Homo sapiens: one gene and its partner. The protein of the gene in region 2 interacts with the protein of the main gene of each other region in a pairwise test. Each region holds a gene or a part of one and is shown on either strand. Other genes may lie near its edges. The genes, in order: FBF1 and FBXL12.

Region 1 (3,815 bases), on a different chromosome or scaffold from region 2:
AGGGGCAGTGCTAGGAGTGGGCAGGCCCTCCTCCAGCCGCTCCAGTTAAGGCGGCCAGCTGGGTTTTATAGTCGCCTTATTTCTTTTTTACACAAATAATGTGTGTTAATTTTAGATAAATCAGAAATAGAGGAACACTATTATGAAAAATGTCACCTTTTTGTAACTCTGGACTCAGGAAAAAAAAAGGAAATAAAAAAAGTCATTGTCAGGCTGGGCGTGGTGGCTCACGCCTATAATCTCAGCACTTTCGGCAGCCGAGGCAGGCGGATCATCTGAGGTCAGGAGTTCAAGACCAGCCTGGCCAACATAATGAAACCCCGTCTCTGCTAAAAATACAAAATTAGCCGGGTGTGGTGGCAGGTGCCCGTAATCCCAGCTACTCAGGAGGCTGAGGCAGGAGAGTCACTCGAACCCGAGAAGTGGAGGTTGCAGTAAGCCGAGATTGTGCCACTGCACTCCAGCCTAGGGGACAGAGCAAGACTCCGTTTAAAAAAAAAAAAAAAAAAAAAAAGTCACCCTCAACGCCACTCCTGAGTCTTGAGAGAACCACTTTTCACTTTTAACATTTTGGTGCATAATGTTCCACTCTGGTACTTTTTTTTTCTTTTCTTTTTTGAGATGGAGTTTCACTCTTGTCACCCAGGCTGGAGTGCAGTGGCATGATCTCGGCTTAGTGCAACCTCCACCTCCTGAGTTCACGCGATTCTCTTACCTCAGCCTCCCAAGTAGCTGCGATTACAGGCATGTGCTACCATGCCTGGCTAATTCTGTATTTTTAGCAGAGATAGGGTTTTGCCATGTTGGCCGGGCTGGTCTTGAACTCCTGACCTCAGGTGATCCACCCGCCTTGGCCTCCCAAAGTGCTGGGATTACAGGCATGAGCCAACGCGCCCAGCCTGGTACATGTTTTTAAAAACAAAATTAGGATTGTATGTGTTTTTCAATAACTTTACTTTTTTTACTCAGTAATGTACACGTGGAACAGGTTTTCAGATCAGTCATTAAACATTTAGTCAATTCCCAATCAGCACAGTTTTCCACTGTGAGGCTGCTCTGTGCTGAGTGATTTGTTGTCTTAAAGAGAAAGACTACCCAGTGGACATCTTCCTACATATGTGTTTGTACCTTTGCCTGATTATTTCACTGGAATAAATTCCTATAAATGGTCTTTCCAGGTAGGAGCAGGTATGCATTTGCCAGAGGCTTCTGAGAGTTAGTGCCATTGCACCCTGAGTATATGGCCAGGGTCCACCCACTGGCGGGGGGAGCAGCTCTGCAGGAACAAGCTGTGACCGCCCGGTATTTCCACCAACACTTTGGTCCCTGACTTCCTCCTTGGCCTTTTCAGCCCTCATGCCTCCTGCTCCCACCACCCGTTGGTGCAGCCAGCCGCCAACTGGCCTGGACCCCAGCCCCTTGCACCTCCATGCCAGGCTGGCACTGCTGAGGCACATGGCAGAGCAGGTGAGTCTCTCCTGGCCTTGGGGATCCTTGTGTTCACGAGTCCTTCCAGCTCAGGGCAGAGGCAGGGAGGAGCACATGGTAGCCCTGGGGAGGGGTGACCCCAGCTCCTGGGGAGTAAAACTGCAGTTTGCTTAGTGAGCCAATGCTCAGACTTCCACACTAGGCCAGGTTCTGTGCAAAGCAATTTGCATATGTCATCTCAGTTAAACCTCATGATAACCTATAGCAATAATGATAACAGGCTGGGCACAGTGGCTCACACCTGTAATCCCAACACTTTGGGAGGTTGAAGCAGGAGGATCACTTGAGCCCAGGAGTTTGAGACCAGCCTGGGCAATATGTTGAGACACCGTCTCTACAAAATGAAAAACTAAAAAAAGAGGACCAGGTGCGTGGCTCACACCTGTAATCCCAGCACTTTGGGAGGCTATGGTGGGAGGATTACTTGAGCCCAGGAGTTCGTGGCCAGCTTGGGCAACATAGTGAGACCTCGTCTCCACAAAAAAATAGCTGAGCGTGGTGGCATACACCTGTACTCCCAGCTACTCCGGAGGCTGAGGTAAGAGGATCACTTAAGCCCGGGAGGTCGAGGCTGCAGTGAGCCACAACGGTGCCACTGCACTCCAGGCAACAGAGCGAGACTCTGTCTCAAAAAAATAAATATTAAAAATTTAAAAATTAGCTGGGCATGGTGGGGCATATCTATAGTCCCAGCTACTTGGGAGGCTGAGGTGGGAGGATTGCTTGAGCCCAGCTGGTCGAGGCTACAGGTGTGTTCACACCACTGCACTTCAGCTTGGGTGACAGAGCAAGGCACTTGTCTCAAACTAAACAAAACAAAACTATAATGATAACAGTTGTCATTATGGAGCATTTCCTGTGTGCCAACCTCAATGCCGAAGGCTTTGTTTATATTTTACTTATTTATTTATATTTAGAAATGGGGTCTCACGATGTTGCCTCGGCTGGTCTCAAAGTCCTGGGCTCAAGTGATCCTACCCCCTTGGCCTGCGGATTAGCTAGGATTACAGGCATGAGCCACTGTGCCTGGCCTGCTTTGTGTATTTTTTAAGCTTTTACCCTCACACAGCCCTGCAAGGAAGGGCTACAAGGAATGTTTACAGACAAGGAAACTGAGGCTTAGAGACATGAAGTCATGTGCTCGTAAGTTCCACAGCAAACAAGTAACCTTGCCAGGATTGAGACTGTGGTCTGTCTCACTCCATACCTGGGCTCTTTCATGGCCCCTGCTGACTCCCAGAGCCAGGCAGAGTCAGGGACGATGTGGGGAGGGGCCTCAGTGACGGCTGGCTCAGCTAGCATCCAGGGCTCCACCTCCCTCTCAGCTCAGGGAAGGTGACCGCCCATCCAAACCTGCCTTGCAGGACCGTGACTTCTTGGAGAATGAACAGTTCTTCCTGGAGACCCTGAAGAAAGGGTCCTACAATTTGACATCTCATTCAGCCTGAGTGGGACCCCAGCCGATTCCCCAACAGAGGGTTCGGACCCCAGAACTGTCCTGTTCCTCCGGCTGCCTCCATGGAGGCAGTGCCTGGGGAGGATTCTGAGATGCTTGAGGCCTGATGACAGCTCTTCCGTGGACAGGGTGCAAGTGCATCCTTTCCAAATGTGCCAGCCCGGGGCAGCCCCTGCCTCTGGGGCTCTGTGGTGTAGGCTATCTTACCATGGCTTTGGCTGCCCTGCCCCAAAGCCATTGGCTTGGATCTGAGGGTCTGAGTTGGCAGCAAGGACCCCCAGCTCTCACTGGGCTCTGTGGGCTCCCCCTGGGCTCTGTGGGCTCCCCCTGCTCCACAGGTAGACTGTTGTGGGCTCTTTTTGCCTGGGCCTCTTCTGAGGCAGGAGCTTTCTTGAGGGATGCCACAAACAGCCTTCCCTACTCCCTGCCAGAGCAGTTCCCTCCCTGATGAGCTGGAGAAGGGCCCTCTGGCCTCCTGACAGTACAGGGAGGGCACCAGCTAGATCCTCCCTTGTGGTGTGAGATGTTCCTGGAACTCAGCCAGGCCCTCCTCCTCCTGGGCTTGCCCAGAGCCCCCACCCTATTCCCAGCATTGCCCGAAGGACCAACCAGTTTGGGTGAACAGTGGCCTCCTCAGCTTCCTCCCCATCTGGGTGCCCCACCGGCGGCGGAGGGAGCTGTGGCGATGGTGGGGTGTGGGGAGGGACGAGGAGGGAAGCCTCTGTGCTGCTCACCTGCCCAAAGCCCAGCTCAGCGGGTACGCAGTGGAGGCGACAAGGAACCAATCACAACTACAGAGGTTTCTCTGATCCTCCTCCACTCCCGCTGCTTCAACTTGACTAAGCTTAAAAAAACTGCTTTTGCCATGGCT
Region 2 (3,470 bases):
GATCACCTGAGGTCAGGAGTTCAAGACCAGCCTGACCAACATGGAGAAACCCCGTCTCTACTAAAAATACAAAATTAGCCAGGTGTGGTGGTGCACGCCTGTAATCCCAGCTACTTGGGAGGCTGAGGCAGGAGAATCACTTGAACCTGGGAAGCAGAGGCTGCGATGAGCCAAGATCGTGCCGTTGCACCAGCCTGGGCAACAAGAGCGAAACTCCATGTCAAAAAAAAAAATATATCAAAGCCTGGTAGAGTGGAAGCTGCAAAAATCAACCCTGGGAAGTTAGACTTAGTAGAAAATAAAAAATATATATAATTGATAGCACTGGGCATTTCATTCTAAGTACAGTTTATCTTAAAAAGAAAAAGTTAGCATGCTTACATCTGCCTTTTATTGCTGGATTTCTCTACTTGGCATCATAGGGCCTAATGGAAAAAGGAAAATTGTCTAATAACATATTCTTTATGTGTGCTTACAAAGGTGTTTCTTTTCTTTTCTTTTTTTTTGAGACGGAGTTTTGCTTGTTGCCCAGGCTGGAGTGCAATGGCACGATCTCAGTCACCGCAACCTCCGCCTCCTGGGTTCAAGCGATTCTCGTGCCTTAGCCTCCTGAGTAGCTGGGATTACAGGCATGTGCCACCATGCCCGGCTAATTTTTTTTTTTTTTTTTGAGACAGAGTCTCGCTCTGTTGCCCAGGCTGGAGTGCAGTAGCGCAATCTCGGCTCACTGCAATCTCCACCTCCCAGGTTCAAGCAATTCTCCTGCTTCAGCCTCCCAAGTAGCTGGTACTACAGGCGTATGCCACCATGCCCGGCTATGTTTTTTTTGTATTTTTAGTAGAGACGCGGTTTCACCATGTTAGCCAGGATGGTCTCAATCTCCTGACCTCGTGATCCAACCACCTTGGCCTCCCAAGGTGCTGGGATTACAGGCATGAGCCACGCGCCTGGCCTTAATTTTGTATTTTTAGTAGAGACAGGGTTTCTCCATGTAGGTCAGGCTGGTCTCAAACACCCGACCTCAAGTGATCTGTCCACCTCGGCCTCCCAAAGTGCTGGGATTACAGGCATGAGCCACTGCACCCGGCCAAAAAGGTGTTTCTACATCAAACTCTTCCATTCACTGAAGAAAATAGCTTATCATCAATCCTTCAGAAAGCATGCTTACATTTGCCTTTTATACATGCATATATATACCCATGTAATACAAACTGTATTAGTCTATTTTCATGCTGCTGATAAAAACATACCTGAGACTGGGAAGAAAAAGAGGTTTAATTGGACTTACAGTTCCACATGGCTGGGGAGGCCTCAAAATCATGGCAGGAGGTGAAAGGCACTTCTTACATGGCGGCAGCAAGAGAAAATGAGAAAGAAGCCCGGGCGCAGTGGCTCATGCCCATAATCCCAGCACTTTGGAAGGCCGATGCGGGCGGATCACGAGGTCAGGAGATTGAGACCATCCTGGCCAACATGACAAAACCCCGTTTCTACTAAAATACAAAAAAAAATTAGCCGAGTGTGGTGGTGCATGCCTGTAGTCCCAGCTACTAAGGAGGCTGAGGTAGGAGAATCGCTTGAACACGGGAGGCAGAGGTTCCAGTGAACTGAGATCGCACCACTGCACTCCAGCCTGGTGGCAGAACAAGACTCCGACTCAAAGAAAAATAAATAAATTAATTTAAAAAATACAAAAAATTAGCTCAGTGTGGTGGCACGTGCCTGTAGTCCCAGCTTCTCAGGAGGCTGAGGCAGGGGAATCACTTGAACCCAGGAGGCAGAGGTTGCAGTGAGCTGAGATCATACCACTGCACTCCAGCCTGGCAACAGAGCAAGACTCCATCTCAAAAAAAAAAAAAAAAAAAAAATTAAGAAAACGAGAACAAAGCAAAAATGGAAACCCCTGATAAACCCATCAGATCTCTTGAGATTTATTCACTATCACGAGAATAGCATGGGAAAGACCAGCCCCCAAGATTCAATTATTTCCCCTGGGTCCCTCTCACAACACATGGGAATTCTGGGAAATACAATTCAAGTTGAGATTTGGGTGGGGACACAGCCAAACTATATCATTCCACCCCGGCCCCTCCAAGTCTCATGTCTTCACATTTCACAACCAATCATGGCTTCCCAACAGTCTTCCAAAGTCTTAACTCATTTCAGCATTAACCCAAAAGTCCACAGTCCAAAGTCTCATCTGAGACAAGGCAAGTCCCTTCCACCTATGAGCCTATAAAATCAAAAGCTAGCTAGTTACTTCCTAGATACAATGTGAGTACAGGTATTGGGTAAATGCAGCCATTCCAAATGGGAGAAATTGGCCAAAACAAAGGGGTTACAGGGCCCATGCAAGTCTGAAATCCAGTGGGGCAGTCAAATTTTAAAGCTCCAAAATTATCTCCTTTGATTCCAGGTCTCACAACCAGGTCACACTGATGCAAGAGGTGGGTTCCCATGGTCTTGGCCAGCTCCGCCCCTTGTGGCTTTACAGGGTACAGCCTCCCTCCCAGCTGCTTTCACAGGCTGGTGTTGAGTGTCTGAAGCTTTTCCAGGTGCATGGTGCAAGCTGTGGGTGGATCTACCATTCTGGAGTCTGGAGAACAGTGGCCCTCTTCTCACAGCTCCACTAGGCAGTGACCCAATAGGGACTCTGTGTGGGGGCTCTGACCCCACATTTCCCTTCCACACTGCCCTAGCAGAGGTTCTCCATGAGGGCCCCACCCCTGTAGCAAACTTTTGCCTGGACATCCAGGCATTTCCACACATCTTCTGAAATCTAGGCAGAGGTTCCTAAACTTCAATTCTTTTTTTTTTTTTTTGAGATGGAGTTTCGCTCTTGTCACCCAGGCTGGAATGCAATGGCACGATCTTGAGTCACTGCAACCTTTGCCTCCCGGGTTCAAGCGATTCTCCTGCCTCAGCCTCCCGAGTAGCTGGGATTACAAGCATGCGCCACCACGCATTTGTTGTATTTTTAGTAGAGATGGGGTTTCACCATGTTGGCCAGGCTGGTCTTGAACTCCTGACCTCAAGTGATCCGCCTGCCTTGGCCTCCCAAAGTGCTGGGATTATAGGCGTGAGCCACTGTGCCTGGCCCTGAACCTCAGTTCTTGGCTTCTGTGCACCAGCAGGCTCAAGACCATGTGGAAGCTGCCAAGACTTGGGGCTTCCACCCTCTGAAGCCACAGCCCGAGTTATACGTTGGCCCCTTTCAGCTACAGCTGGAGCAGCTAGGGCACAGGACACCAAGTCCCAGGGTGAACATAGCACAGGGACCCTGGGCCCCCAGGAAACCACTTTTTCCTCCTGGGCTTCCAGGCCTGAGATGGGAGGGGCTGCCGTGAAGGTCTCTGACATGGCCTGGAGACATTTTCCCCATGGTCCTAATTAGGTTCCTTGCTACTTATGCAAATTTCTGCATCTGGCTTGAATTTCTCCCTAGAAAATGGGTTTTTCTTTTCTATCAC

What was found.
Region 1: the proteins of FBXL12 (region 2) and FBF1 interact in a two-hybrid assay, tested with the Homo sapiens proteins (one large-scale study listed by BioGRID and IntAct).

The regions. Positions count from the first base shown.
Region 1 is NC_000017.11:75,909,844-75,913,658, reverse strand, and holds part of FBF1 (fas-binding factor 1), read left to right. Parts: intron 1-1,351; coding exon 1,352-1,467; intron 1,468-2,852; coding exon 2,853-2,936; 3' UTR 2,937-3,815. UniProt on the Homo sapiens protein: Keratin-binding protein required for epithelial cell polarization. Involved in apical junction complex (AJC) assembly via its interaction with PARD3. Required for ciliogenesis.
Region 2 is NC_000019.10:9,812,850-9,816,319, forward strand, and holds part of FBXL12 (F-box/LRR-repeat protein 12), read right to left. Parts: exon of another isoform or gene 1,322-3,470; coding exon of another isoform or gene 1,289-1,321; intron 426-1,288; exon of another isoform or gene 382-425; intron 1-381. UniProt on the Homo sapiens protein: Substrate-recognition component of the SCF (SKP1-CUL1-F-box protein)-type E3 ubiquitin ligase complex.